7 linked regions of the Homo sapiens genome follow. The protein of the gene in region 1 interacts with the protein of each later gene in a pairwise test. Each region holds a gene or a part of one and is shown on either strand. Other genes may lie near its edges. The genes, in order: USP15, TRIM46, PIBF1, PHF7, TRIM74, BRAP and TRIM5.

Evidence for each region.
Region 2: the proteins of USP15 (region 1) and TRIM46 interact in a two-hybrid assay, tested with the Homo sapiens proteins (one large-scale study listed by BioGRID).
Region 3: the proteins of USP15 (region 1) and PIBF1 interact in a two-hybrid assay, tested with the Homo sapiens proteins (one large-scale study listed by BioGRID).
Region 4: the proteins of USP15 (region 1) and PHF7 interact in a two-hybrid assay, tested with the Homo sapiens proteins (one large-scale study listed by BioGRID).
Region 5: the proteins of USP15 (region 1) and TRIM74 interact in a two-hybrid assay, tested with the Homo sapiens proteins (one large-scale study listed by BioGRID).
Region 6: the proteins of USP15 (region 1) and BRAP interact in a two-hybrid assay, tested with the Homo sapiens proteins (one study listed by BioGRID).
Region 7: the proteins of USP15 (region 1) and TRIM5 interact in a two-hybrid assay, tested with the Homo sapiens proteins (one large-scale study listed by BioGRID).

Annotation. Positions count from the first base shown.
Region 1 is NC_000012.12:62,381,924-62,386,253, forward strand, and holds part of USP15 (ubiquitin carboxyl-terminal hydrolase 15), read left to right. Parts: intron 1-1,916; coding exon 1,917-2,075; intron 2,076-2,154; coding exon 2,155-2,379; intron 2,380-4,330. UniProt on the Homo sapiens protein: Hydrolase that removes conjugated ubiquitin from target proteins and regulates various pathways such as the TGF-beta receptor signaling, NF-kappa-B and RNF41/NRDP1-PRKN pathways.
Region 2 is NC_000001.11:155,176,617-155,180,946, reverse strand, and holds part of TRIM46 (tripartite motif-containing protein 46), read right to left. Parts: intron 4,016-4,330; coding exon 3,872-4,015; intron 3,753-3,871; coding exon 3,657-3,752; intron 2,946-3,656; coding exon 2,692-2,945; intron 2,456-2,691; coding exon 2,334-2,455; intron 2,139-2,333; exon of another isoform or gene 2,101-2,138; intron 1,316-2,100; coding exon 1,013-1,315; intron 513-1,012; coding exon of another isoform or gene 445-512; exon of another isoform or gene 268-444; intron 1-267.
Region 3 is NC_000013.11:72,819,846-72,824,175, reverse strand, and holds part of PIBF1 (progesterone-induced-blocking factor 1), read right to left. Parts: intron 2,328-4,330; coding exon 2,194-2,327; intron 1-2,193.
Region 4 is NC_000003.12:52,413,049-52,417,378, reverse strand, and holds part of PHF7 (E3 ubiquitin-protein ligase PHF7), read right to left. Parts: intron 3,384-4,330; coding exon 3,331-3,383; intron 2,884-3,330; coding exon 2,792-2,883; intron 1-2,791.
Region 5 is NC_000007.14:72,959,278-72,963,607, forward strand, and holds the end of TRIM74 (tripartite motif-containing protein 74), read right to left. Parts: intron 2,169-4,330; coding exon 2,073-2,168; intron 975-2,072; coding exon 744-974; intron 632-743; coding exon 605-631; 3' UTR 208-604; downstream 1-207.
Region 6 is NC_000012.12:111,657,978-111,662,307, forward strand, and holds part of BRAP (BRCA1-associated protein), read right to left. Parts: intron 2,699-4,330; coding exon 2,623-2,698; intron 1,369-2,622; coding exon 1,230-1,368; intron 869-1,229; coding exon 759-868; intron 1-758. UniProt on the Homo sapiens protein: Negatively regulates MAP kinase activation by limiting the formation of Raf/MEK complexes probably by inactivation of the KSR1 scaffold protein.
Region 7 is NC_000011.10:5,674,246-5,678,575, forward strand, and holds part of TRIM5 (tripartite motif-containing protein 5), read right to left. Parts: intron 4,190-4,330; coding exon 3,959-4,189; intron 1-3,958.

The sequences.
Region 1 (4,330 bases):
GAAAAACACTGGTGTGGTACAAGAATGAGTATAGAGACAGCAATGAGCGTTTGTATAGTTGTTTTGGAATATAGTACATCTCTGGAAAACCTATGTGAATATTCTATACAAATGTAAAAGACTAAATTTGGGCATGTTACTGAACTCTAAGAACCCATTTTACTTTGAGAGTCATTATGAATTTGAAAAATTATCAAAATGAAAATAGTCTGCAAACCAAGCATTAAAAATTAAATGTACTTTCAATATAGTTCTTAAACTTTTAAGGTTATTCACATGTGTGAATTGTTACTTATCAAATAATTTATTGTTCAAATAAGAATTGAGCTGAAATTTAGCTTTATGGCTGAAATTTAGCTTTATATTGTTAAAAAAATGCCTACTTAATTATATAGGTGAAACTTTGAGAAGTTTTAAACTTGTAGAGAGAATAAGCAGTTTTAAGTCGTTATTTATACAAGTAATTTAAATGGCATTGATAGAGGACATCTACTGGACAACATTTTTTATTAGCTATATACTAGTTCTTAGAAAATAAAAAACCAGCAAATCAAAATGCCTCTGTATTGTCTTCCTTAACATTCTAAACTTTGGACAAACTAGTCCAGACAAACCATCTCTCAGCTCTTACTAGCATTCTAATTGGTTTTATTTTGGTAGATTTTCTCTCTTAAAATTATGTGTAAATAGGTTCTTTATGTGTGACTTTTTTTCTGTCAGATGATGATTCATACTATTACATTTATTTTCAGTCTCATCCAAAAACAAAAATACTTAGTGATGAAAGATTAGGAAAATTGAATATGAACATTAATGTTTCTGTTATCTCTGTGATACTCATCCTCCTTTTGCGCATAGAAACTAAGTGAGAGCCTAGAGTAGTTATCTTAAAAATGCTTTCAGATACGTAATTATCTTTATGTGGTAATATAGCAAGGATGAGAACCTGCCTCTTCCTGTCTACCTACCAGACATTTATAGGAGGAGGCAATAGGAATACCTAAAGCTAAGAATTAAGGACATCTGGAAAATCCTTTGACAAATAGTGAAACAACAATTAATGACAATGAAATCTATGACCAAACAAAGATCAATACATTTTTATATATTAAAGATTACATGTGTTGATCTATTTTGTCCCAGATAAGCTTTGTTGAGTGCTTACTAGGAATGCAAAACAAAATATAATTCATATATATTCCTGTTGTTCGTGTATACAATTTTTATTATTCACAGGAGTTATGTTCAATGAAGCTGCCACAAACACTGAAATAACAACTACTGAACCATTACTCCTAGGGAAACTATAGGGTTTGATTCCTCCAAGCCTTTGTTCACAACATTTTCGTCAACCAGACAATGTATAACTTTGTTTTGCATGTGTTTCTGTTTAAAAACAACTTGTTTAATATATATTGTTGAGTCCTTAACATTGAACTCACAGCAAACAGTGCTATAACTCATGTCTTAATGAAGCATATCTAACACATACTTTTTCTCCATAAAGCACATCACAGCTTTCTTGCATTTAGGAACACTAGCTGGCATGTTTGTACTTCATTTAGTGACCATTTTAAACACTGAAATTAACAACAAAACAAACAAAAATGTGAAAAAACATAACACTAAATAAACTACAAAGGACACTTGTTTATAGATTCAGAGCTGAAACAACAAGCCAAAGCATCACCTTGTTCAACCCCAGCTGGTAACATGCATATCAGGTGACTCAAATTTTTTGCCACTCTGAAAATATCTACAAATGACCATGAATTGATTTTGGGGTTACAAATACATTTTAGAAAGCAGGCAAATTCACAAATGTGGAATCCATGAATAATGAGAATCTATTGTACATATGTTTAAAAATCAACCCTGTTCCTAGAACTGATTTGATGGTTTTGCATTTCTTACAGACACAGGTAGGACGTTTTGCACCTCAGTTCTCTGGATATCAGCAGCAAGACTGTCAAGAACTGTTAGCTTTCCTATTAGATGGATTACATGAGGATTTGAATAGAATTAGGAAAAAACCATATATACAATTAAAAGATGCAGATGGAAGGCCAGATAAGGTAAATTTCATGATCCTATTGTCACCATTGTTATAATTTTGTGATACCTCTTTCTAATTTGTGTCTATTATCCTTGTAGGTGGTTGCCGAAGAAGCCTGGGAAAACCATTTAAAACGAAATGATTCTATCATAGTAGATATATTTCATGGCCTTTTCAAATCAACTTTAGTTTGTCCTGAGTGTGCTAAGATTTCAGTAACATTTGATCCTTTTTGTTACTTGACACTTCCATTGCCCATGAAAAAAGAACGCACCTTGGAAGTTTACTTAGTTAGAATGGATCCACTTACCAAACCTATGCAGGTAAATCATGGGTTGGTTTGTTTTGTTTTTTTTTTTTTTTTTTTGCATTTGTTATTTTTATTAAAAAATTAGTGTTGAGTCCTTATTATAAAAATTAAGTATTGAATTATCAAGCCCAATCAATAATGTTTATTTGTATAAGAGATTTTATAAGCTGAATACTTTGGAAATCAGTGTAACTTTTTACAGTCTTGAAAGAGCAACGTGTGTCTTATAAAAAATTCTCAAAAGGCTTTTTATAGAGGTTTATTTTTATAATATTGGGGTGAATATTAGCTTATGAAGATCAACATAATATTTTTAATTTTTTTAAACTTCAACTTTCTTTAGTGTTAATTGTAATTTTTTTTTACTAGTGGCTATTGGAAGTAAAGCTAATACTTTTAATTCATAGTGTGATAGTAGTGTATTTAAATACCTGTAATTTTTAGGCATTTTAGGAACTTAAAAGAAAGTAGAAATTCAGTTAGACTAAAAATATTTTGTTCAGTGATGTTCTCTAATTTCTAATACTTTGAAGTATCACATATTGTTTATTCTGTGCAAAAGTCCTGTGGTAAGTCTTACTGTCAAATTGTCTGCCTGATTCCGTTACCTAGTGTTATAATTGGATTATTTATATTTTGTGGGTAAAGCACTATCTTTTCTCCCTTATTTATTAATCAGTTAATCCTCTTCTGACACTTGACCCATCCCAGTGAAAGTAACTTCTTCTTTTTCTACCTCTCTTTCCCTAAATTCTAACACTTAACTAATTTTGTTATAACTTTTGGCTTACTTTTATCTTTTATCCCTAGACTACAAGTCTTTGAAGACAGAGACCTTGTAAACCTTTGTATTTCCAGCTTTTGTGGCTGGTAAATATTAATGCACAAGAAGTATTCAAAAATTTTATTCATCAAGATACTTAACTATGCACCTACTAAGTATAAAGCTCTTTGGCTAAACAAAAAAGATATGATTCCTGCTTTAGAAGATTGTTTTCTGTAAATTTTTAGCCAAATAGCTCAGTTTGTTAGTGCATAATAGTCACGATGTCTATATGAAAGCTATATTTGAACAAAATTATGATCTTACCATTCAGGGATGTATTTGGGTTTATTGTCAACAAAGACAGGGTATATGTAGTGTTCATAAACACACAGTCCTTTTATTCAAAGTAATTAAAGTCTAGTAGATACTAGGTATGTACTCAGTTATGCAAATTTAAGCAATTTGTTTTTCTGCTGCTTTATGTTTTCTTTATGAACTCATTGAACACAATGCCCTCATATCAGTATTTCACTGGAGAGTGCTAAGTACTATCCCTTATCTGTGAGCAGAGCCAATAAAGACCTGCTTTTACTTTTGGCCTGGGGAATATGTGTTCACATTTTTAAAGTTATATCCTTTAGATATTCACTTATTCACTCGTTTATAAGTACAAGATTGTCAACATTCTTTTCAATGGTGAGAAACTATAACAGTGCCAAACCACATCCTTACCTCTCTAGTTTATAACTTTGCAGATATACACCAATGAGTGTAATGGAGCAAGAGAGCGTAGAATAATAAGTATAAATTTACTGCAACAAAAAATAAATGTAGATGTTTTATTTCTCTACAGCACATTTGTTAGAGATAATATTCTCCCATGCCAATAATATAAGGTAATCTATATCAATAGTGGCAAATTGCATTAATTTACACATTAGTCCATAAGGTATATGATAAGTGCTCTTCCATAAATTGGGCTCTAAATTATTTTTCCAGCAATGTGAATTTCATTGACTTATCACTTTTCTCATTTGGTGACCAATAATATAAATTTGCGGAGGTTAGAGCCATGGTTAGCACAGAGAAATTCGTTTGTTTTTGTGTTTTGTGTTTTTTTTTTTTCCTTTTTTCCATTTAGAGGCAGTAACAACTCAAATACAAAATGATCACCTCATTTCATTAACACTATGCTTTG
Region 2 (4,330 bases), on another chromosome or scaffold:
AATTTATTTTTTACGTATTTTATTTACTTATTTATTGAGACAGAGTTTCACTCTTGTTGCTCAGGCTGAAGTGCAATGGCGCGATCTCGGCTCACCGCAACCTCCGCCTCCTGGGTTCAAGCAATTCTCCTGCCTCAGCCTCCCAAGTAGCTGGGATTACAGGCATGCGCCACCACACCCAGCTAATGTTGTATTTTTAGTAGAGATGGGGTTTCTCCATGTTGGTCAGGCTGGTCTCAAACTCCCAACCTCAGGGGATCCACCCACCTTGGCCTCCCAAAGTGCTGGGATTACAGGTGTGAGCCACCTTGCCTGGCCTTTATTTATTTATTTATTTATTTATTTTTCCGAGACGTCGGAGTCTTGCTCTGTTGTCCAGGCTGGAGTCCAGTGGCGCGATCTCAGCTCACTGCAACCTCCGCCTCCCAGGTTCAAGCGATTCTCCTACCTCAGCCTCCCGAGTAGCTGGAATTGTAGGCACGCACCACCACGCCTGGCTAAGTTTTGTATTCCTAGTAGAGACGGGGTTTCACCATGTTGGCCAGGCTGGTCTCAAACTCTTGACCTTGTGATCCGCCCGCCTCGGCCTCCCAAAGTGCTGGGATTACAGGCATGAGCTACCTCGCCTGGCCTATTTATTTTTTTAGAGATCGGGTCTCGCTGTGTTGGCCAGGTTGGTCTTGAACTCCTGGCCTCAAGCAATCCTCCCTCCTTGGCCTCCCAAAGTGCTAGGATTACAGGCATGAGCCGCTGCACCTGGCCAGTATTATCGTTATCCCTACAGAAAAGGACTCTGAAGTTCAGAGAGGGTAAAAACTTGCCAGAAGCCACCCACACAGTTGGCAAGAGGCAGAGCTGGGATTTGAACCCAAGCAGTCTAGCTCCAGAGCTAGTGTGTGTGAGACCTACTATGTTATATGGCCTCTCTAGCGGCCACCGGAACCAACCGTCAGGGCCTAGGCCCTGGCATACCCCATGCCCTTTGCACGACCACCTGTGCCTGCCCACTCACCAGGTGCCGGGGGCGTGTGCAGGTGCACATCTTCACTGTATTCGCCGTAGCCGGCCTTGTTGCAGCCGCGGACACGCAGCACATACACAGAGCCCGTGTCGGGGTTCTCAAGCAGGGCACTGGTGCCCCTCACCTCCTCCCGCCGCTGCCAGCGGGTGGGGCCTGGCTGAGCAGGCACATCCGTGCGCCGGAACTCAACGGTATAGTGCCAGGCAGGTGGTGAATGGGGGGGCAGCCGCCAGCACAGGAAGATCTGATCATAGGCAAAGGTGCGCTGGGTGTCAATGACGGGGGCCTCAGGCACTGTTGGAAGAGACAGCGGGTGTCAGTCAGGGCCTGGCCACTGGCCTGGCATGGAGGGCAGGGGCAGGCAGGAAAAGGGAAAGCAGCGGGAGCCGGGGGGGTGAGTGTGGGTGAGAGGGAGCTGGGGAAGGGCTCATCTGGGAACTGGGCACAGGAGGGGTAGGGCAGGGCCCAAGAGAGAACGAGGCAGGAAAGCGCTGGGCTGGGGGTCAGGACACCTGTGTGCTAGTTCTGGGCTGCTGCTACCTCACTCTGGCCTGGAATAAGTCACTTCCCCTTTCTGGGCCTCAGTTTCCTCCCCTGTCAAATGAGGGTATCAGATCAGGTAAGTTCTGGGGGCCCTTGCAGCTCAGTTATTCTATGAATTAAGAGGAGCCCCAGGGAGGGGCAGGCAAAGGCCACTGGAGCCCACAGGCAAGAGGGCGCTGAGCAGGAAGGAAGGGGACCAGGCTCAGAAGAGAGATTTAGGAGGCAGCGAGGTGGAAAGTGGGGACAACAGAGGGACAGCAAAAGCTGAGGGCAGGGGTTGGAGGTCAAGGGAAAGGAAGTGCAAGGCCAGAGGGCAAGGGTCACAAGGACAAAAGGTCAGAAGGGCCAGGATTACGCAAGCGCCTGAAGAAGGCAGAAGGGAGACAGGGCATTGGTCCAGTGGGAGGACCACGAGGTCGGGGCAAGGCAGGAAAGAGAAGGAAGCAATGAGTGGTTGGCTGAGATGCGTGGGAGCAGCGGGGTGGGAAGGGGGCCCGGCGGCGGGCAGGGCCCCCGGGGCAGGGCCGCTGACTTGCCTGGGGTGCTCCGGAGCAGAGTCCGCGGTGGCCACAGCCTACAAACAAAGAGAGGGAGAAGCAGCGCTGAGCGCGGTAGGACGGTGTGGCAGGGTGGGCTGGGTGGGAGGAATGGCTGGCCAGGCCGGGCAGGAGGCCGGGGAGGTCCCCGGTAGGCACTGCCCCCCGGGCCCGCTGCTGGGGAGGAAGGGAAGAAGGCTCTGGTTGGGCATGGGGCCTGGCCATCTCCTTACCTCGCAGGAAGTTAAGCTCTGTCAGCAGCTTCATCTCACGTCCCACGTCGAGCTGGCAATGGCGGAAGGAGGAGCTGGCAGCTGGCCGGAATGTCTGGAGGGCTTCAGTGGCTCGGGCAATCCTGGGATGGGGGCAAGAAAGGGTCAGGCACTGCCATGTGGGCAGTCTCCCTTCCCCTCAATTCTGTCTTGCTTGCCCCTAGAGCCTTGGGAACTGCTTTGGGAGCTGGTATCAGTTTGGCCTCATGAGAATCCTTAGAATGCCAGTTCTCCACCTGGCAGTACTGTAGACATTGTCCTAGATGTTGGTCACATCCATGATGTCCCTGCCCCCCTAGGAGCCCATGCCCCTGAGTACCTGTTGTGCAGCTGCTTGGCGGCTTGCACAAAGCAAGGCTGGTCTGTTTCCTTAAGTACTTCCTGGGCATAGCCCACCAGACCTGAGCCATCCAGCAGGCTCCGGTGCTCCTGGATCTGGGCGCTGAGACGGGCCAGCCGCTCCTGCTGGCATTCTTCAATGGCCTGAAGCAGTGATGCCCGCTTCTCCTCCAGCACAGCCCCCAGCCCCCGCACCAGCTGCGACACCTCCTCCTTGGCCTGCTGACCACTCACCTGCCCAGGGAGCAACACCCAAAGGATGCGTGACTTACTATCTTCTTTTTGGAGGCAGCACTTGTGCTGGCCTCCTTGGATGCCACAGCATGGCTAAGGTCACAAGGGATCTGGGGAAATCCTACTCACCCATTCCTACAGGGCCTGGGCTCATGGCTGCAAAGGCACCTCTAGATGGACTCAACTCCTGGTCATTTGTGCCAACCTTCCCGGAACCCCACATCATAATCTCTGCCCCTTAGTGACTCATCCAAATGAACGAGGCCATGGCTACCCTAATGTCCACTTGGACTGCACTAATTAATGTCCACTGGCATCTATGCCATCCTTAGTTGTCCATCCCCATGTCAGCCAGCTCAAGCAACCTGGCAGAAGGTATCAGTCATCACCTCACTCTAGCACTGGGAATGCGTGACATCCTCGGTAGGCACCTGAGCCTGAGAGCATCTGAGCTACGCGTGGGGTTTTTTGAGCTATGCATGGGGTTTTTCGAGCACTCTCCTGAGCTATAGCCACCCTGCCCCCTCCTGCAGCCCAGGTACAGCCTGGCCTGGGGCACTGGTGTTCCTGCAAACCTGGTTTAACCAGAACCTGGACACCTCACGGGCTTCCTGAGCTAGCAACAAGGTGATTGGGTCATGATCACCCACACCCCCTTCCTGCCCCTACTCCCAGGCAGGGCCCAGGGCCTACCTCTGTGCCCTCCCTCACCTCGGTGTGCCTCACGGCCTCCTCCAGCTCACAGATCTGGGTCTGTACCGTGTCCTGGTTTCCCAGGATGTATGTCAGGCTCTTTGTCAGCTTGTCCTGAGGGGGAAGAAAGAGGTGGGCATCAAGCCCAGCTCTGCAGAAGCCAGCAGTTGGGAGGAGGTGCAAGAGGGTAAGAGTGTGAGTTAGCACTAGGGTTGGATAAGGGGGGTCCTTACCTTGAGGGCCTGGTAGGCACTGAGCACTGGTGTGATCTTGTGCCCGCTGTGGGTGCGCCGCACCCGGCAGAGTTGACATACCAGGCGTTGGCATGTCTTGCAGTAGTGGGTCACCTCTTCCTTGTGGTCTGGGCACATAAGGCCCTAGGGACACAAAGAACAATGTGATGGTCAGACAATGGTGTGGGTAAGGGTGCTATGCTACCACTACAGCAGTTTGGTGCCCTCCTCCACTGGCAAGATGGGAGTGGAGACATCCGCTGGTGGTGCTCCACAGTGCCACCTGGTGGTACATACTGGCATCAAAGAGCCTTTCCTGCAGTCTCCGGGCGGTGCCCATTTCACCAGCATTGCACCTCCCTTCATCTCTCTCATTGGGATATATGGTAATAACAGTAATAATGATGCCAATTAATCTTTGCCTGGTAGTTAATAATTAACCTTGTCCATCTTGTTTAC
Region 3 (4,330 bases), on another chromosome or scaffold:
TGGGCATGGTGGCGCACACCTGTAGTCCCAGCTACTTGGGAGGCTGAGGCAGGAGAATTGTTTGAACCTGGGAGGCAGAGGTTGCAGTGAGCCGAGATCGTGCCATTGCACTCCAGCCTGGGTGACAAAGTGAGACTCTGTCTCAAAAAAAAGAAGTATCAGTATGATCTCATCCATAGTGTGTTAAGCCTCCTCCTCATTCTCCCTCTACTTTCTCTGCCTACTCAAAGGGCCTAGAAATAATGACCAATGTAGCCATGACCATAGCACCCAAATCCTAAATTTCTAAATAGCATTCCCCACTAAGAGATCAAGACTTCTTAGACAAAGAGCTGAGGCAATGAAATTACAAAACCAACAAACGAAAACCAAAACTAGGAACATTATGTTATGCCAGAAAATAAGGAACTTTTAGTAAAAAAAAGTGATACATTCAGATCTAATTTAATGATTTTAACTGCTACATAAAATTATATTGCAGAGTAAATCTCAATTTATTTTCCATTCTGCTACTGAAAAGCATTTGAATTTCTTTTAATAATGACACAATTAACATCCATACACCTGTTTCCTTTTGTACATTTGTGAGAATTTACCCGGGGCATAAAAGGGCTTTTTTTTCTTCCCCAGTTTATCTTATATTTTATGACCGATGTTTTTAAACTCATTCATTCTGCTGAGTGAACTAAAAAGGGTCATAGTTTGAGTCCTTTCTTGTTTTACTATTCCATTTCTACCATAAAGATGCTTATCATGCTTTTTGATCAAGGTTATATTTTTCTTTCCTAGGTTTTTATTATAGTAAATGAAAACATATGTAAAAATAGAGGTGATATAATGAACACCCATGCTCCCATCACCCAAATTCAGTAATTATCAACTCATGACTCATCTTGTTTCAATGATCATCCGTGGCCCCGATGGATTATTCTGATGACTGTGCTTTTTAGTTTTCTCTTTTTATATTGTATCTGTCATTGCTATAGACTGATAGTGGCAGAGGGGACATGAAAATACCAACTGGTATCATCTTAGCATCATAATCTATTTCATTTTTATTCTTTTTTATTTTATATTTTTAAGAGATGAAGTTTCACTCTGCCACCAGGCTGGAGTGCAGTGGCATGATCATAGTTCACTGCAGCCTCGAATTCCTGGGCTTAAGCAGTCCTCCCACCTCAATCTCCCAAGTAGCTGGGACTAAAGGCATGTGCCACTATGCCCTCTACTTCATTTTTAAATGCTTCTTTTGAACTCCAGCTTTATTCCAGAGCCCACTGAGCACAGCTCTCATGGATTTAAAGCTCCAATAATTATCATATTTTGGCATAATGCCATATACATAAGAAATACCATGTGTCAGTCATAATGGGAGTAGAAATGACAATCTTCTATCCACAAATCTTTGCAAATTCACATACGGTATTATGCAATTTGTAATTTAAATTACACAATTTAAATCATTCATTCATTTAACAAATATTCACTGACTACTACATTTTAAGAATTATTTCAAGTGGAGTGAACAATTAAGATAAGGTCATTCCATTTATATTACATATGCAGTACATATATATTTAAAGGCTTTCATATTTATTTGATCTTAGTTTATATAGTGCAGTTATCCGTATTAGCAACATCTCATAAATGATGAAACTTAGGCTCAGAATGAAAAGAGATGTACTGAGGGACATACAGCTAAGTAGCAGCTCATTAAATTACTGAACAAACAACAGAAAAGAATATTCCAGTTAAAAAAAGGTATTTGCTATAAGTAGCAAATATTAGGAAACATATTTTCAGAAAGTGTCATTTTTTTTTTGAAAGAGTGTGTGTCTTTTGTCAGGAAGAAACAGCTGAAAAAAACTTCAGGGAAAACTGTTAAGTATTTAAATTGATTCCACTACATAAAAATAATCATCAAATAACACTGAAAAAATATTTACACACGTGTGATTTTACTGGGTTTCTATCTCTGTTTACATTTTAAGACAGCAGTGACATCTAAATAAAACAAAAACAACCAATATAAAAATACAATATAAACCCAACAAACTGCCAAAACTGCATGCATTTGTGCAAAGAAGAATAAGGTAAAAGTAAAATTAACAACTGATTGTTGGTAAAAACTCAGGTGACTTTGATGCACCCTAAAAATAGAGAACTACTACTGCAGCCATTTTAACTACTTACCTCTTGACTTTATCATAGTTCTCTTGACGGTAGTCACCTTGCTGAATTAACTGTTTTGTGTCTGCTAATTCTAAGGCCAAACGTTGACATCTAATTTGAACTTCAGAGTAGTTTTTTCGATCTTCCTCATATGTCTATAAACCAAAGGAATAATAACACATTTCAGACTAAACACTTAACATAGTTGCCCAAATTCTGTATTGAAGTCTTCTGTTAAGCTGTGATTGTCCTTGTAATTAAACAGTAAAAAAAATTCCTCAATTTTTAAATTTAGTAATTTTTCCCTATTCAAAGGCAAGTAATCTTAAGTTCACAGAGTGGTCTGTAAACTCAGTTGTTTAAAACTTAAACTGTTTTTCAAATAAATAACACAACAACTATGTTTTAGTTACTAGGCTAAAACATAAAATGACTACAAATGTTAAATGACTTTTTAAAAACATTTACTGAGTTACTATCAGATGCTGAAGATACAGAAGTGAATAAAACACACTTCCTGTTCTTGAGGATTTTACAGTTTAGAGATGAAAAGTCATATGGATATCAGTATCTACAATGAAAAATAATTAATGAAGAGATTAAACATGCAGTTCCAATTGTGTTACTCAGAAAAAAAGGAATCGTGTGACCCTCGAAACACATCTTTACATTGTTCTTCCCTCTACTCTCCCCATGTCAGTAGCATGTTAAGAAAGGCATTGCTGATATGGGAAGAGCAATGGAAGTAAAAACCTTAAAGTTGGTCACAAGGTTCTTTACAATCTGGTGCTGCTTCCTACAAGCCCCATTTCTCACCATTCCTAACATTCACACTTCACCCTCCAACCCTAATGGAGATCTGAAATTGTCTGAACCCACTAATGCTGCTTCTAACCTGTTCCCACTGCCTGAATACCTGCATATAATCTAAATGCTTGTCTCCTTCAGAGCACTGATCTCACTGTATCATTACCATCACATTAGTTTTCTCTTTATCTCACCAGAGTGTAAACATCTTAAGGGTGGGGATTTTGTCTTGCTCAACGCTGGACCTCCACCACTTTAAACACTGCCAGGTATATAATAAGAATTAAATAAAAGCTAAAAAAGAAATGATTAAATATGGGAAGCTGGGAGGGGAAGCAGACGGGACTAAATTCCTACTTATTTTCCTTCTTTGAACTCATCAAATCTTGCAACCAATCATCAACTCCACCTTCAGAAGCTGGCATGTTAAATGCATCCTGTGTTAAGTCATTACTGCTTAAGTAGCTGGCCAGCTAAATGAGGTCATGTTCACTCCACACATACTGACTGGATCATTTCTGTGTGACTGGTCACGGATTAGGCACTACAGATACAAAGATGAGTAAGACGATTTTGTCCTTTTTAAACTACTAAATGTAACTTTGATTATTTTAGTCCCCAAATTTCTATCAAAGGGCTATTTGAGAGAAGTAATTATGGAAAAACTACATTCAGTGTGTTTTGCTTTGGTATGGTATTATGTTCTTGTTCTACGCTGAAGTTTTCCATGAGAATGGAATGTTACTATGGTACTTATTATGGGATTACAGCTGAGGATACGCTATCACCTCCCGAAAGATCATCACATATATCATTTCGGACCTAAGTCCTACAAGAATCTTTAGTTCTTCTGAAGAATGCTTTATCCTTCTAAACATCATTAATCATGTCACTGTTTTGGAAGAGAGTATAGTGTTATGGCTAGGAAGGCAAGCTCCAGAATTCAACTGTCTAAAACTGAATTCCTGCAGTAAGACTCTGTGCACGTTAGTTTACCTCTCTATTCTGGTGTCCTACCTCAGAGTTCTTGTGAAGCATATATCAAGTAATACATGTAAAGTGCTTATAAAAATGTCTAACGTAGTAAATGCTGATTAACTATAAATTAATATTGTTATAATGCTTCCTCTTTGCTTTGGCTTCCAAAGAGATCATAGCCAAATTAACAGCTTAATAACTGTGCAAACGCCATGACAGAATTTGGAGGAACATAAATACAAGGAATATAAACATTAAAGGATGGGCAAAAAACAGGGATCCCAAAAAACCCAAAGGAGTATTCGCAGAAACAATGGGTAAACCAGGGGTGTGTGTCAGGAAAAACAGTGGAAGACAGTGCTTTGAAGCAGTC
Region 4 (4,330 bases), on another chromosome or scaffold:
AAATTGACCTATAAATTCAATGCAATCCCAATCACAATCCCAGTAGACTTTTTTTTTAAAGAAAAATTGACAAGCTTAATATAAACTTTATAAAGAAAGGACCTGATAGTCAAAACAATCTTGGAAAAGATTGTAGAACTTAACAATACTGAATTTCAATATACTATAAAGCCACAATAATCAAGACAGTGGGGACTTGTGTAAGAATAGATACATAGATCAATGACATAAATAGATTATCCAGATCCACAGATATATGGTCAATTGATTTTGACAAAGGCACCAAGGCAATTCTATGGGTAGGTAAAGATTTCTTGCAACACACAAAAAGCACTGACCATAAAAGAAAAAAATGGATAAACTGGGCTCCATTACAATTACAAACTTGTTCTTTGAAAGACACCATTAAGAAAATGAAAAGGCAAGCCAAAGACTAGGAAGAAAATAGTCTCAATACATATATTTGAAAAAGAATTTGTATCTGAAATATATAAGCAATTCCTACAACTCAATAATAAAACCACTCAATTTTTTTTTTTTTTTTTTGAGACGGAGTCTTGCACTGTCGCCCAGGCTGGAGTGCAGTGGCGTGATCTCGGCTCACTGCAAGCTCCACTTCCTGGGTTCACGCCATTCTCCTGCCTCAGCCTCCCGAGTAGCTGGGACTACAGGCGCCTGCCACCATGCCCGGCTAATTTTTTTATTTTTAGTAGACACAGGGTTTCACCGTGTTAGCCAGGATGGTCTCCATCTCCTGACCTCTTGATCTGCTCGCCTCGGCCTCCCAAAGTTCTGGGATTACAGGCGTGAGCCACTGTGCCCGACCACCACTCAGTGTTTTTAAATGGGTAAAAATATTTGTACAGATACTTAACAAACGAAAATATGTGGGCCGGGCCAGGCGCGGTGGCTCACGCCTGTAATCCCAGCACTTTGGGAGGCCGAGGTGGGCAGATCACGAGGTCAAGAGATCGAGACCATCCTGGCTAACACGGTGAAACCCTGTCTCTACTAAAAATATAAAAATTAGCCATGCGTGGTGACAGGCACCTGTAGTCCCAGCTACTTGGGAGGCTGATGCAGGAGAATTGCTCCAACCCGGGAGGTGGAGGCTGCAGTGAGCCAAGATCATACCACTGCACTCCAGCCTGGGCGACAGAGCGAGACTCCATCTCAAAAAAAAAAAAAAACCAAAAAACCAAAGAAAATATGTGAATGGCCAATATGCACATGAAAAGAAGCTTTAGTCATCAGAAAAATGGAAATTAAAACGACAATGAAATACCAATACACACCCAGTAGAATGGCTAAAATTAAGAACACTGACAAAACAAAGTTCCGGCAAGAATACTGTGCAACTGGACTTCTTATAAATTGCTGGTAGGAGTGTAAGCTGGTACAACCGCTTTGGACAGTGATGTGGCAACCTCACATAAAGTTAAATATCTAATTAGCATACAACTAGTAATTCCACTTCTAGGCATCTGCACAAGAGAAGTGAAAGCACATGTTCACAAAGAGACTTGTACATGAATGCTTAAAGTAGCTTTATTCATAATAGTCCTCAAATGGAAACAATTCAGATGTTCATCAACAGGTGAACAGATAAGCAAATAGTAACTTATTCATGCAACCGAATACTACCAAGTAATAAAAAGGCACAAGCTATGAATGCATGCAACAACATGGATGAATCTCCAAAACACTGTGTTGGGAGAAAAAAGCCAGATACAGAAGATTATAAACTATATGATTTCACTTATATGAAGTAAAAGAATAGCCAAAAATAATCCATAGATCAGAACAGTGATTACGTCTAGTGGGATTGACTGGAAAAGGAGGCAGGAGGGAACTTTCTGGGGTGATGAAAATATTACCTATTTTGATTGGGGTGGTGGTTATTTGGGGACATACATTTATCAAAACTTATCAAACTGGACCCTTAAAATTAGTGAATTTTGTTCAAGACCAGCCTGGCTAACACGGTGAAACCTGTCTCTACTAAAAATACAAAATTAGCCAGGCATGGTGGTAGGTGTCTGTAATCCCAGCTACTTGGGAGGCTGAGGCAGGAGAATCACTTGAACCAGGGAGGCAGAGGTTGCAGTGAGCCGGGATCACGCCACTGCACTCTAGCCTGGGCAAGAGAGTGAGACTCCGTTCTCAAAAAAAGAAAAAAATTGGTGATTTTTACAGTATGAAAGTTATACCTAATAAAAAAATACTGGGAAAAAGCAATTGGAAGGATGTTACAACTTTGACAGCATTTGTTTCTGGGGAGAGGGAGAAGGATTGGGAACATTGTTTAGGGAAGAGACTTTTTTACTGAACTTACTTTATACTGTCAAGATTTTATACCAGACACATATATTTTTCTTTTTTTGAGGCAAGGTCTTCCTCTGTCACCCAGGCTGGAGTGTGGTGGTGTGATCACTGCTCACTGCAGCCTCCACCTCCAGGGTTCAAGCGATCCTCTTGCCTTAGCCTCCGGAGTGGCATTTGTCACTATACCCAGCTTTTTTTTTTTTTTTTTTAATTTTTTTGTAGAGACAAGGTTGCCCAGGCTGGTCTTGAACTCCTGGGTTCAAGAGATCCTCCTGCCTCGGCCTCCCAGAGTGCTGGGATTACAGGCGTGAGCCACTGCACCCAGCCTAAAAATAGATTTTAAAACAAAAAAGCTATTAAGAAAAATAAAAAAACAAGGCTGTGGATATGAGGATGAATGTAACAGAGAACAGTCAGTACACCAAAAGCCATAGGATATTCAAAGCAAAGGAGGCCTCATACTCACAAGACAGAAATAATGCACGCTGATATTGTCTTTCTGAAGAAATTCCCCTAATTTTTCGGGATCCCCAGGTTCTCGAAGGCATAGCCAGCAAACTGGAAGAGAGGACACCCAGAATTTGGCTCAAATTGACCATTAAGAATGGAAGAGAAGGGTGAGAATGTAACCATTCCTCTAAGTCAGGAAGGAGTAGAATACTAGGAAAAGGGTCATTTTGGCAAGGAGGAAGGTTGGGATGAGGTCTTATGTGGTATCAATTAGTCTGTCACATAATTCTGGTTACAATGAAAAAGTTGGCCACAACTGCTCACTTCATTTTTTTTTGGTTTTGTTTTGTTCTAAAGTGACTTTAATAACTTGTTTCTTGAACTTCAGACATGGTAATTTAAAATGGCAGTTCCTGAGTCCTCAAGATCTTAGAGAATCTAGGAAGGAAGTAGGGCTGGGAGAGAGAGAAGAAGCAAGTATACTGCCCCACACAGGTGGCCTTCTTTGCTGAGGGCTGGAGGCAGTGGGCGAACACAAGCTCCAGTCTTTCTTACCAGGCCCTGAAGACGGTTTCCTCTGGGTTACCCTCCTAGTCTTGGCAGATTTTCTATACAAGAGAAATAAGAAGCACAAGGTGTTCTTTGGGGATCTTGTTGATAACCTTTTTAACATTTCTCTTAAAATGCCATTCATGGGTCTGATGAAGGACCAACATATCTAAAGCCTAAGACATCAGCTTCTTTTCATATTTCACATATATATGTTTTTGAGACAGAGTCTTGCTCTGTTGCCCAGGCTGGAGGGCAGTGGTGCGATCTCAGCTTACTGCAACCTCTGCCTCCTGGGTTCAAGCAATTCTCCTGCCTCAGCCTCCCGAGGAGCTGGGATTACAGGCGCCTGTCACCACGCCCAGCTAATTTCTATATTTTTAGTAGAGACGGGGTTTCACCATGTTGGCCAGGCTGGTCTTGAACTCCTGACCTCAGGTGATCCACCCGCCTCGGCCTCCCAAAGTGCTGACATTACAGGCATGAGCCACTGCACCTGGCCATATTTCATATTTTTTTTAAGTGCAAAACATACTCACTGAGTTATTTGAGGGCAGGAACCGGATTGTAAGCATCTTTCTCTCCCCAGTGCCTGTACTGCCTATGTTGACTGAATGAATGCAAGAGCAAACCCTCTTTTACTTTTTTACTGCTTCTTCTGCCAACTACTCTGAATCTCAGGTGGTACCACCTTTACAAAGCATACTGAAATGAACCAAAATTGATAAAAGTATTTCCTGTTGCGAGGCACTATTCTTGGCACTTTACATGTATTGGCTCAATTAATCTACAGTAGCTCAATGAATCTACAGAACACTCTAAAAAGTACATGCCATTATTATGTACATTTTCCAGATGAGGAAACTGAGGCATAAAGAAATGTAGTGCCTTCTGTCACAGTTATTGGCAAGTGGCAGAGCTAGGATATGAATTTGGGTAGTAAGGTTCCAGAGTCAGCACTTTGCTACTAGGGACAGCACTGGTAAGACAGGTATGACAGCTCCCA
Region 5 (4,330 bases), on another chromosome or scaffold:
CATCAGGCGTGTGCCCCTCTGCCAGGCCTCCCAGACACCTGCTCCTCCTCTAGTGTTTTGTTTTCTGAGACAGGGTCTCGCTCTGTCACCCAGGCTGGATCATGCAGTAGCATGATCATGACTCACTGCAGCATCAAACTTTGGGCTCAAGCAATCCTCCCACCTCAGCCTTATGAGTAGCAGGGACTATAGGCGCATGCCACCATGCCCAACTAATTTTTTTATTTTTGTATTTTTTGTAGAGACGGGGGTGTTACTACATTGGCCAGGCTGGTCTCGAACTCCCGGCCTCCAGCAATACTCCTGCCTTGGCCTCCCAAAGTACTGGGATTGCAGGCATGAGCTACCCTCCTCTAGTATTTCTGTAGCTTGAGTGAACTTCTGCTGTTCTAGGTACCCACAGTTCACCATCTGCCTCCCCACCTGTCTGCGAGACCCTTGAAGGCAGGGACGTGACTTTCCTCTATCTTCCCCAGGCTCAGTTATAGAGCCAGCTATAGGCAGCTGCTTGGGAGGCGCTGGTTAAGCTGAATGGAGGAACCAGTGGAGCTGAGATGCCCGTGCCCGCAGCCACCAGACCCTGGCTGAGCTCTCTCCAAGGTTATTACCTGGAGGCCATGGAGTGGAACTTCTGGAAGGCAAGAGAGAGGGAGGTTAAGGCTAGAAGGTGGGAAGCCAGGGCACTGTTGGGAAGGGGAAGGCCCTGGCGGGTATGGGGATGGGACGCCTCCCTGTCCACTCACCCAGATGAACTCATGGTGGTCCTCATTTCCGAACTGTTCCAGCACACACTCGGCTTGGGCCAGCCGCTCCCGGGTTCCCTGGGCCTGCTCCAGCTGCATGTCCAGGGAGGCCACCAGGCCACGGGTGTGACCCCCTATCCCCTCCAGGCAGCGGGCCTTCTCCTCGTCCACCGGGTGGCGCAGCTCCTGGAACTCGCGGCGGATCACCCAGCTGAAGACATCCGACTCATTCTGGGACAGGGAGGGCTGCTCACTGCAGAGTCACAGCCGAGCTGCCAGGCTCTGTCTGGCTGGCCTCGGTGTCCCCAGGGCCTTCCTGACCGGGTTGGTCCTGGGACCTGAGTCTCAGGGGAGGCTGCATGGCCTGGCGCCGGGCAGGGAGTTCACCCCATGCATGGGGAGCCCTGGCGGTGGCCGTGGGGAGGGTGGCCCCAGCTCCCATTTCAAATGGAGAGGCTCTGCTTTGGCCTGTTTTAATTTTTAATTTTTTTTTTAACAGACAGGGTCTCACTCTGTTGCCCAGGCTGGAGCGCAGTGGCACGATCATAGCTCACTGTAGCCTTGACCTCCCAGCCTCAAGCAATCCTCCCGCCTCAGCCTCCCGAGTTGCTGGGATTACAGATGCACGCCACCACACCCCACTTTGCCTATTTCAGCTATTAAATGTGCATATCCCAGAGTTCCACAACTGAAGGAAAGCAGGAAGGCCCTGGGCGAGCGGGCTTTGCTGTGAGGGAGCCAGAACTCCCTGCAGAACCCTGAGCTCCGCCTCCACCAGGCAGGGCTGATACCGCCTGCCGCGCAAGGGTGAGGAGGGTAAATGAGGGAGGCCAAGTGCTTCTGGATCTTGCTCGGCTCCTGTTTCTGTTTCACAGCCACCTCCAGGGCCGGGGCACTATGCGTCCCAGCCCCATGTGCCTCTCAGTTCAGGAGATCAGCCAGGGCCCAGGGCTGCCAGCCTCTCCACGCCTGCGCACCCAGGTACTGGGAGGGCACCATGACAGGCTGGCAAGGTCAAGCAGACACAGGTGGCACAGGGGCGGAGGAGTCACGCCCATGCTTTCAGCTGTTTACCCCCGAGACTCAAGTCCTGGGTTATCTCAGTCTCAAGGACACAGAGGGCAAAAGCCAACTTGGAGCCAGTCCTAACGACAACTGGGTTGAATTCCCCTGAGAGGATTTGCGCTTTCCCCACCCCGCCCCGGAATGCTTTGAGTTCTGGCTTTATATGGAAGGCATGGTTTTCTGTAAAGGACCAATGAGAACTGAGCTCTACAGGAAAGTGAAGGTGGCCGGTCCCAGGCAGGGGCAGAGGGAAGGGGCACTCACGACGATTCGGGTCCGGTTTTTCACCAGTTTGGCGATGAGCTCATCCACCTTCTTCTGCTCCTGCTTCAGCTCAGAGAAGAGGGCTGCGAGCTCCTCCTGGAGGCAACAGGCCATGGCCCCATGAGCAGCTGATCCCTCCCCTTCTCAGCTCCTTGGATCACCTTCTTGGGAGTATCCCAATGGCCACAAGCACTCCCAGGGAAACCAGGGCGGGAACCAGAGCCACCCAGGTACCCTTGAGTCCAAAACAGGTTAAATTGTTCAAGAATAGTCTGGGCGCAGTAGCTCACGCCTGTAATTCCAGCACTTTGGGAGACTGAGGTGGGACTTCACTTGAGGTCAGGAGTTTGAGACTAGCCTGGCCAACATGGTGAAACCCCATTTCTATTGAAAATACAAAAATTAGCCAGGTGTGGTGGCACACACCTGTAGTCCCAGCTACTTGGGAGGCTGAGGCACGAGAATCGCTTGAACCTGGGAGATTGATGTTGCAGTGAGCTGAGATCATGCCATTGCACTCCAGCCTGGGTGTCACAGTGAGACTCTGTCTCAAAAAATAAAAATAAAAAATAAGATAATTCAAGAATATTCTAAGGGCCGGGCGCGGTGGCTCACGCCTGTAATCCCAGCACTTTGGGAGGCCGAGGCTGGCTGATCACGAGGTCAGGAGATCGAGACCATCCTGGCTAACACAGTGAAACCCTGTCTCTACTAAAAATACAAAAAAAATTAGCCGGGCATGGTGGCGGGCACCTGTAGTCCCAGCTACTCCGGAGGCTGAGTCAGGAGAATGGCATGAACTTGGGAGGAGGAGGTTGCAGTGAGCCGAGATTGCGCCACAGCACTCCAGCCTGGGCAACAGAGCAAGACTCCATCTCAAGAAAAAAAAAAAAGAATATTCTAGGCTGGGCACAGTGGCTCATGCCTGTAATCCCAGCACTTTAGGAGGCCAAGATGGGAGGATCACTTGAGGCTAGGAATTTGAGACCAGACTGGGCAACACAGTGAAATCCCATCTCTAATGTTTTTTTTTTCTTCAAAGAATATTCTGGGCCGGGCGCGGTGGCTCACGCCTGTAATCCCAACACTCTGGGAGGCTGAGGCGGGCGGATCACGAGGTCAGGAGATCGAAACCATCCTGGCTAACACAGTGAAACCCTGTCTCTACTAAAAATACAAAAAATTAGCCGGGCGTGGTAGCGGGCGCCTGTAGTCCCAGCTACTCGGGAGGCTGAGGCAGGAGAATGGCGTGAACCTGGGAGGCGGAGCTTGCAGTGAGCCGAGATCGCCCACTGCACTCCAGCCTGGGCGACAGAGCGAGACTCCGTCTCAAAAAAAAAAAAAAAAAAAGAGAATATTCTGCATTGACAGCAGGAACTTCCCAGGCATAAGAGGGTCTCGATGTCACCCCTGTGCATGACATGGAGACAGTCACTAAATGTTACAGCTACCAGAAGTCACCATGTGATGCTGGCACTTCCTGGATTGAATGCTGCCTGTAGGGGACCCATCAGGTGAACTCTGTGGTCACCAGCAGATCCAGAATTAGTGGGTATTTAATCAGGAGCCATCACAAAAAGGCCGGCGCCAGGTGAGGCTAATTCTAGGGCCAGTGGTGCTCACACGGGCCTGGGTTTAACCTGGTGAATCCCCACACCTATAAACACCTGAATCCATTCCTGGTGGGCTTGGACACAGCACGGATTTGCGACCTCCCCAAGCTGACATAAATGCACTTCTCCTGGACTGCCCGGGCCCCAAATCTGACCTAGCCTTGGGGGTGCCAACCAGGACTCCTGGACCACCATCTACTCCATGACTTGACCAGAGCCCCCGTCGGTTTATACCCATGCAATGTACAGAATTTTTGGCTTGGATCGTGCCCAAGCACCAGAGAGCTGCAAGGGGCTTTCAGGAAGGGAGTTGGGTAAAGAATCAAGCACTTGCTGGCATAAACGGACAGAGTCCTTGCTCTGGAGAATGAGGCATCAGAACATCTCACAGAGGCCTAAGAACAGCATTCCAATGTCACCCTCCCCAGGCAGACAGACGGGACTCATTCCTTCCCCGTGAGAAGAACTAAGTTATGCAAATCAATGCACCCATCAATCGAGCATCTCAAGATCTCAATAAACAGGAGGCAACGGGAACACCTTAAAGAGGGCAATAAAGGAGTGCAATTTAGTTGTATTCTGTGTTGCAACAGAGAAGAGCCTCGGGATCATCAAAACCCAAATCTGGCCGGGAACAGTGGCTCA
Region 6 (4,330 bases), about 49 Mb from region 1:
ACCCAGGCTAGAATGCAGTGGCACAATCTCAGCTCACTGCAACCCCTGCCTCCCAGGTTCAAGAAATTCTGGTGCCTCAGCCTCCCAAGTAGCTGGGATTACAGACATGAACCACCACGCCCAGCTAATTTTAGTAGGGACAGGGTTTCACCATGTTGGCCAGGTTGGTCTTGAACTCCTGATCTCAGGTGATTCGCCTGCCTCAGCCTCCCAAAGTGCTGGGATTACAGGGGTGTGAGCCACTGCACCCAGCTGACATTTAGACTTTCAAAGAAGAAAAACAGAATAAAAATATTTTAATAACACCTCACAGCAATGACCAAACATTTTTTTTTTTTTTGAGACAGAGTTTCGCTCTTGTTGCCCAAGCTGGAGTGCAATGACCCGATCTCGGCTCACTGCAACCTCTGCTTCCCAGGTTCAAGCGATTCTCTGCTTCCCGGGTTCAAGCGATTCTCCTGCCTCAGCCTCCCGAGGAGCTGGGATTACAGGTGTGTGCCACCATGCCCAGCTAATTTTTTGCATTTTTAGTAGAAACAGGGTTTCACGTTAGCCAGGCTGGTCTTGAACTCCTGAACTCAGGTGATCCACCTGCCTCAGCCTCCCAAAGTGTTGGGATTACAGGCATAAGCCACTGCGCCCGGCCATGACCAAACTTTAAAAAAAAAATGTACATCCAGGTAAATGACAAATATTTCAAATTAGAATAGTAAAGAGCAGTAGAAACAGATAGAGTGATAACTCATTAAATCTCTTACCTCTAACTGTAAGGCATCTATTTTCTCTTCCTGGCAAGTATCCCCCTCACATTCATACTGTACTATTTTTCCATCTGTTTTACTTGCAACCAGTCGATGAACATAGTTATCTACAGAAAGAGTCAACAAAAGTGTGTTTCTTTAGAATGAAAAGGGTCTCTGTACACTTTTAACTCTGACAAAATTTTTTTTTCAGATCTAATTTAAATGCCTTACAATATTTCTTTAAAAGTGTCAAATCATTTGAATTTTAGAGGGGAGGGAGAAAGCAAGAATGGAAGTATTAACTCCCTTTATAATGTGTGATTCAAGACATTCCTAGAAAAATAGTGCCCTCAGGGAAACTGAGAATTTGGGTTTGCAACAGCTGTCAAAAGATGACATTTCAAGCTGGGAGGGAAAGTGAAGGCGTTGTGAAGGCAAAGTTTCCACACAGAATGAGTCCAAATTAGAAAAGAGAGTGGTATTCACCTCCAGCATAGTCCCAGACTCGATGGTTGGTAAGCTGCATGGCATACGTGTGCTGCGTTTCCTCAAAGTGCTTATAAGCATGTCGACTGACATACCGTCCACATCCTATGTGGCCGCATATTAAACAAATCCAAAGATTCTGCCGGAAGAGGTAAGATCTTAATTAGTTAAATAAAAATAAATGATCTGGCTGGGCGCGATGGCTCGGAGGCCGAGGCAGATGGATCACCTGAGGTCAGGAGTTCGAGACCAGCCTGGCCAACATGATGAAACCCCATCTCTACTAAAAATACAAATATTAGCTGGGCGTGGTGGCAGCTGCCTGTAATCCCAGCTACTCAGGAGGCTGAGGCAAGAGAATCGCTTGAACCCAGGAGGTGGAGGTTGCAGTGACCCGAAATCGTGCCACTGCACTCCAGCCTGGGTGATAAGAACAAGACTCTGTCTTAAAACAAACAAACAAACAAATAATCGATCCAGCTCACTCAGAGTGGGAAGGAACCTGAGACACTAGAAGACAGAATTGTTGGTTGGGCACAGTGGCTCACACCTGTAATCCCAGCATTTTGGGAGGCTGAGGCAGGAGTATCGCTTGAGCCTAGGAGTTTAAGACCAGCTTGGGCAACATAGCAAGACCCCAACTCTACAAAATGTTTTTTTTGTAGAAAAAACAAAAACAAAATTTTTTAGAAAAAACAAAAACAAAACAAAACAAAACCTACTAGGCCATGGTGGCATGCACCTGTGGTCCCAGCTGCTTGGGAAGATGAGATGGGAGGAAGGCTTGAGCCCAGGTATTTGAGGTTACAGTGAACTATGATCATGCCACTGCACTCCAGCCTGGGTAACAGAATGATACCCTGTCTCAAAAAAAAAAGAAAAAGAAAAAGAAAAAACTGTTTCTACAGGAGCCTGAGTGATTAAATGTATGTTTAAAACCCAACAATCAAGGATGCTTTTATGGGTCATTTTTTTTTTGCTGATTTCTAAGGAGCACTATGTGAACAGCAAGAAAAAAATTCACAATTCATCAGTAAAAGTCTAAGCCTTTCAAAAGTGCAAAGAAAAAAGGAATAAATTTAGCTCAGGAGTAACATAATTTGTGTATTCATATGTCTTGCCCAACCCTAGACAAAAAGAAAAAAAATTTTAAAGAATTTAGGCTGGGTGCAGTGGCTCACACTTGCAATCCCAGCACTATGGGTGGCTGAAGTGGAAGGACCGCTCGAGGCCAGGAGTTCGAGACCAGCCTGGGCAACACAGTAAGCCCTGTCTCTTAAAATAAAAAATAAAAAATAAATTAAAAATAAAGAACTTAAGTCATACCAGGCAGAAGAAAACTCATGACAATTAAAGCTGCATTCTTTGTTCTTTTCCATCACCCATTACTTACTTCCTGAACACCACACTCAAAACACTTATTTTCTTCTACTGGCTCGGGCGTTTGACAGTACCGGCAAACAGGACACCTATCCAGGACACCAAAAGATAATGGTGCAGGTTAAATATAAAAGACAGCTGTTACAGAACCCAAAAGTCAAACACTGGATTTTATATCCTCCTCCTCTTATATGCTATTTTTATCATAACTAAGGATATCACTTAAAATAAAATATACAAAATAAAAATATACAAAATCTTGATAAAACAGAGAACAGAGAAATTGGGATCTGCCTCATGTCCTTTTCCGCTCTTATGTCTAAAGCTTAGATGATCAAAGAGCTAAGTATTTACAGGTTACAATTAGGACTTCATTTCATGTCTGATTATTTATAATTTTTTTTTTTTTTTGAGACAGAGTCTTGCTCTGTTGCCTGGGCTGGAGTGCAGTGGTGCGATCTCAATTCACTGCAACCTCTGCCTCCCAGGTTCAAGCGATTCTCCTGCCTCAGCCTCCCGAGTAGCTGGGACTACAGGCATGCACCACCACACCCAGCTAATTATTGTATTTTTGGTAGAGACGGGGCTTCACCATGTTGGCCAGGATGGTCTCGATCTCTTGACTTCATGATCCACTGGCCTTGGCCTCCCAAAGTGCTTGGATTACAGGTGTGAGCCACAGCTCCCAGCTTGTTTTTTTTTTTTTTTTTGAGACAGAGTTTAGCTTTTGTTGCCCAGGCTGGAGTGCAACGGCATAGTATCAGCTCACTGCAACCTCAGCCTCCTAGGTTCAAGCAATTCTCCTGCCTCAGCCTCCTGAGTAGCTGGGACTACAGGCATGCGCCACCACGCCCAGCTAATTTTGTATTTTTAGTAGAGACGGGGTTTCTCCCTGTTGGTCAGGCTTGTCTCAAACTCCCAACCTCAGGTGATCTGCCTGCCTTGACCTCCCAAAGTACTGGGATTACAGGCGTCAGCCACCGTGCTCAGCCTATAATGTATTTTTACTCCAACAAACAACCTGCCTTATCCCCATTTCCCAAAGATTTAAATCATTCAAAAAGTACCCTTTCTTCTCCAGGTTGCTCCTAAGAATTGGATTTAAAATCTGTAGTAAAAAAAAAAGGTTTTTTTTTTTTTTGTGAGACAGAGTCCTGCTCTGTCACTCAGGCTAGAGTGCAGTGGCGCGATCTCAGCTCACTGCAGCCTCTGCCACCCAGGTTCAAATGATTCTCCTGCCTCAGCCTCCCAAGTAGCTGGGATTGTAGGCATGCACCCCCATGCCCAGCTAATTTTTGTATTTTTAGTGGGCATAGGGTTTCACCATATTGGCCATGCTGGCCTCCCAAAGTACTGGGATAACAGGCATGAGCCACCGCACCTGGCTAAACACAAAGGTGTTAATGTACTTATTGAAATGCACATGATATCTCACTGCACCGTGAACATCATGTGGAAGATACCAGTGCTCTATCAGGCATTCATGTCTCAATTTACAAAAAGCCAATAAAAACAATGTTGAAAAAATCCATTAACTGTTTTCTATTATACTCCACACAAAATAATACTAAATACTAGTCATGAGTATTTTTGTTAGATGGGCAACTAGGACAGAAAGTGGGTTATAGCTGAGGCTGACTGAACTGGCACCAGGAAGAAACAATGCTCAAGATATAACTAGTGGCTAGGCGCGGTGGCTCACACCTGTAATCCCAGCACTT
Region 7 (4,330 bases), on another chromosome or scaffold:
AAATAGTATCATAGGAGTCTCTAGCAGTTGTCTCCCCTCAAAAACAATTTAAACAACCATCCAAGAACTAAAACACCTCACCAGAACTAAGAAATAGGGTGGGAGCATACAGCATCTGGGTATAACACAGAAAGAAGAAAAAGACTCATGGAAGAATGTAGGAAGGACAGTTTTACATTTTCCATTTCACCCCTCTTACAACTCTAGGCAGCATAGCGTGTGAGAGGTACCCTCCACAAGGAGAAAGAGGGGAAAATGAGCACCAAATGTTACCTCAGACCCTAACACTGGGCTCAACCTAGTAAAACCCAGCCTGGCAGGTCTGAAGACACCAGACTCCAGACTGGTATCTATGGATAAGCCTCCAGGCCGTATCTCACAGCCTAGGCTCTAGATCTGTGCAGTGGACTCAGTCTACGAGCTATCTAAATGCGAGGTTGCCCTCAGTGGTAGGACCATTCTCAGTTGTGTTGGAACAACTGGATAGCCATATGCAGAAGACTATCTCACACCATGGAGGACTTTAAGTAAAGTAAGTCAGGAACAGAAAGACAAATACTGTATAACATCACTTAGTATGTAGATGTAAAAAATAGTTGAGCTCATAAAAGTAGAGAGTGGAAGAGGGGTTTCCAGGAGCTGGGGTGTAGGGAGAGTTGAGGCCGATATTGGTAAAAGGACACCAACTTCAGAATGAAAAGATGACTATCTTCAAGAGATCTATTGCAGAATGTGGCAATTATAGTTAACAATGTATTGTATTCTTGAAAATTGGGATAAGAGCAGTTTTCTTTTTTTTTTGAGATGGAGTCTCGCACTGTTGCCCAGGCTGGAGTGCAGTGGTGCAGTCTTGGCTCACTGCAAGCTCCGCCTCCCGGGTTCACACTATTCTCCTGCCTCAGCCTCCCAAGTAGCTGGGATTACAGGTGCCCGCCACCACGCCTGGCTAATTTTTTGTATTATTTTTTTTCATTTGTGGGGTACAATGCAAAATGAAAATATGCGGCCCCTTGTTCAAAATTTATTAAACATTTCAAGATGATGACAACAGAGCATTAAATCAAATGCAGGTGAGAGAGGGGTAGACACATCCTAAGGTGCCCTGGGGTTCCGAGGAATACAGCATGAGAAACACTGAACGTAGAGCCTGAGACAAGGACCTGGGTCCAGGTGATTTACCTGACCCCAGGAAGCAGGAATGAGGGAGCAGGGAGGTAAGACAGGGAGGAGGAGAAGCCAATGTATGAGTAAGCTGTTGGGGTTGTTTCTGGGCATTATGGGATCATGATCCCACCAAACCTCCTGGGAATGCCCCAGAATCTCTGCCCGAAACACTGAGAGCTGAGGCATTTCTCCATCAACTCCCAACCCCATTGGTTGAAGGATGCCCCTGGGGGTGCTAGCTTTCTTGCATTTCTTTTTTTTTTTTTTTCTTCTGTTGTGTTTTTTTTGTTTTTGTTTTTGTTTTATTATACTTTAAGTTTTAGAGTACATGTGCACATTGTGCAGGTTAGTTACATATGTATACATGTGCCATGCTGGTGCGCTGCACCCACTAACTCGTCATCTAGCATTAGGTATATCTCCCAGTGCTATCCCTCCCCCCTCCCCCCACCCCACCATAGTCCCCAGAGTGTGATATTCCCCTTCCTGTGTCCATGTGATCTCATTGTTCAATTCCCACCTATGAGTGAGAATATGCGGTGTTTGATTTTTTGTTCTTGCGATAGTTTACTGAGAATGATGATTTCCAATTTCATCCATGTCCCTACAAAGGACATGAACTCATCATTTTTTATGGCTGCATAGTATTCCATGGTGTATACGTGCCACATTTTCTTAATCCAGTCTATCATTGTTGGACATTTGGGTTGGTTCCAAGTCTTTGCTATTGTGAATAATGCCACAATAAACATACGTGTGCATGTGTCTTTATAGCAGCATGATTTATAGTCCTTTGGGTATATACCCAGTAATGGGATGGCTGGGTCAAATGGTATACTTCAGCAAAGTCTCAGGATACAAAATCAATGTACAAAAATCACAAGCATTCTTATACACCAACAACAGACAAACAGAGAGCCAAATCATGAGTGAACTCCCATTCACAATTGCTTCAAAGAGAATAAAATACCTAGGAATCCAACTTACAAGGGACGTGAAGGACTTCTTCAAGGAGAACTACAAACCACTACTCAAGGAAATAAAAGAGGATACAAACAAATGGAAGAACATTCCATGCTCATGGGTAGGAAGAATCAATATCGTGAAAATGGCCATACTGCCCAAGGTAATTTACAGATTCAATGCCATCCCCATCAAGCTAACAATGACTTCACAGAATTGGAAAAAACTACTTTAAAGTTCATATGGAACCAAAAAAGAGCCCGCATCACCAAGGCAATCCTAAGCCAAAAGAACAAAGCTGGAGGCATCACACTACCTGACTTCAAACTATACTACAAGGCTACAGTAACCAAAACAGCATGGTACTGGTACCAAAACAGAGATATAGATCAATGGAACAGAACAGAGCCCTCAGAAATAACGACGCATATCTACAACTATCTGATCTTTGACAAACCTGAGAAAAACAAGCAATGGGGAAAGGATTCCCTATTTAATAAATGGTGCTGGGAAAACTGGCTAGCCATATGTAGAAAGCTGAAACTGGATCCCTTCCTTACACCTTATACAAAAATCAATTCAAGATGGATTAAAGACTTAAACGTTAGACCTAAAACCACAAAAACCCTAGAAGAAAACCTAGGCAGTACCATTCAGGACATAGGCATGGACAAGGACTTCATGTCTAAAACACCAAAAGCAATGGCAACAAAAGACAAAATTGACAAATGGGATCTAATTAAACTAAAGAGCTTCTGCACAGCAAAAGAAACTACCATCAAAGTGAACAGGCAACCTACAAAATGGGAGAAAATTTTCACAACCCACTCATCTGACAAAGGGCTAATATCCGGAATCTACAATGAACTCAAACAAATTTACAAGAAAAAAACAAACAACCCCATCAAAAAGTGGGCGAAGGACATGAACAGACACTTCTCAAAAGAAGACATTTATGCAGCCAAAAAGCACATGAAAAAATGCTCATCATCACTGGCCATCAGAGAAATGCAAATCAAAACCACAATGAGATACCATCTCACACCAGTTAGAATGGCAATCATTAAAAAGTCTGGAAACAACAGGTGCTGGAGAGGATGTGGAGAAATAGGAACACTTTTACACTGTTGGTGGGACTGTAAACTAGTTCAACCATTGTGGAAGTCAGTGTGGCGATTCCTCAGGGATCTAGAATTTTTTGTATTTTTAGTAGAGACGGGGTTTCACCGTGTTAGCCAGGATGGTCTCAATCGCCTGACCTCATGACTGGCCCGCCTGGGCCTCCTGACCTCATGACTGGCCCTCCTGGGCCTCCCAAAGTGCTGGGATTACAGGCGTGAGCCACCGCGCCCAGCCTTTACTAGTGAATTCTATTGAGCATATAAAGAAGAAATGATAGCAGTTATTTAATTCTTTTCAGAAAATTAAAAAAAAAGGAAAAAGTCTCAATTAATTCCATGAAGGAAAAAAATAAAAAGCATCTTGTATTTTGACGTGTATTTGTTTGCCAGTGGCTAAGCTGAGCAATGAAAAGCTGCACTGGTAAGTCTCAACACTAGAATACAGAGAATAGGAACCTATCAAACATGACTAGAGCTAATTGATCATCTCCACTACGTCAAATTTTTCTACTGCTCTGGATAAATTAATAAAAATGGGATTATCTCTTGCTACTTCTACATTCAATTATTCTTATAACTTCAGCAATTGATTCAGAAAAGCGGTCCTGCAGAGAACATTGTTAATATTAGAAAAAGCACAGCAACGCAGAGAAGGAAATAGCCTTCACTTTTCTTTAATCTCAGTGCTCAGGCTTCTTTCCACTTTTTACCTGAAGCAGCTCCATCACTGACCCCTGCAGCCGATGCTCCAGATCTGAGATGAGCTCTCTCAGGGACTGGGTCTGCTGCACCATCTCAGTTTCAGAGTTCGTAAGGCTTTTCAGAATGTCTTCCTCCTCCTTCTCCAGGTTTTGCAGCTCATTGCTCTCCTCCCAGTCCAGGATGTCTCTCAGTTGCTCAAAATCTGCCAAGACGTTGGTTTTGTCATACTGTATTTGAGTCTTCAGAGATAAGAGAAGAGAAAGGGGCACTCAGTCTACCAGGCAGAGGCTGTTAGCCAGAAAAGGAGCTGTTTCTTTTGGGGAGTTCTCACAAGGAGGGGACATAGTAGCAGGAGAGTAGGTCTTAGGAAAGCTGCCTTT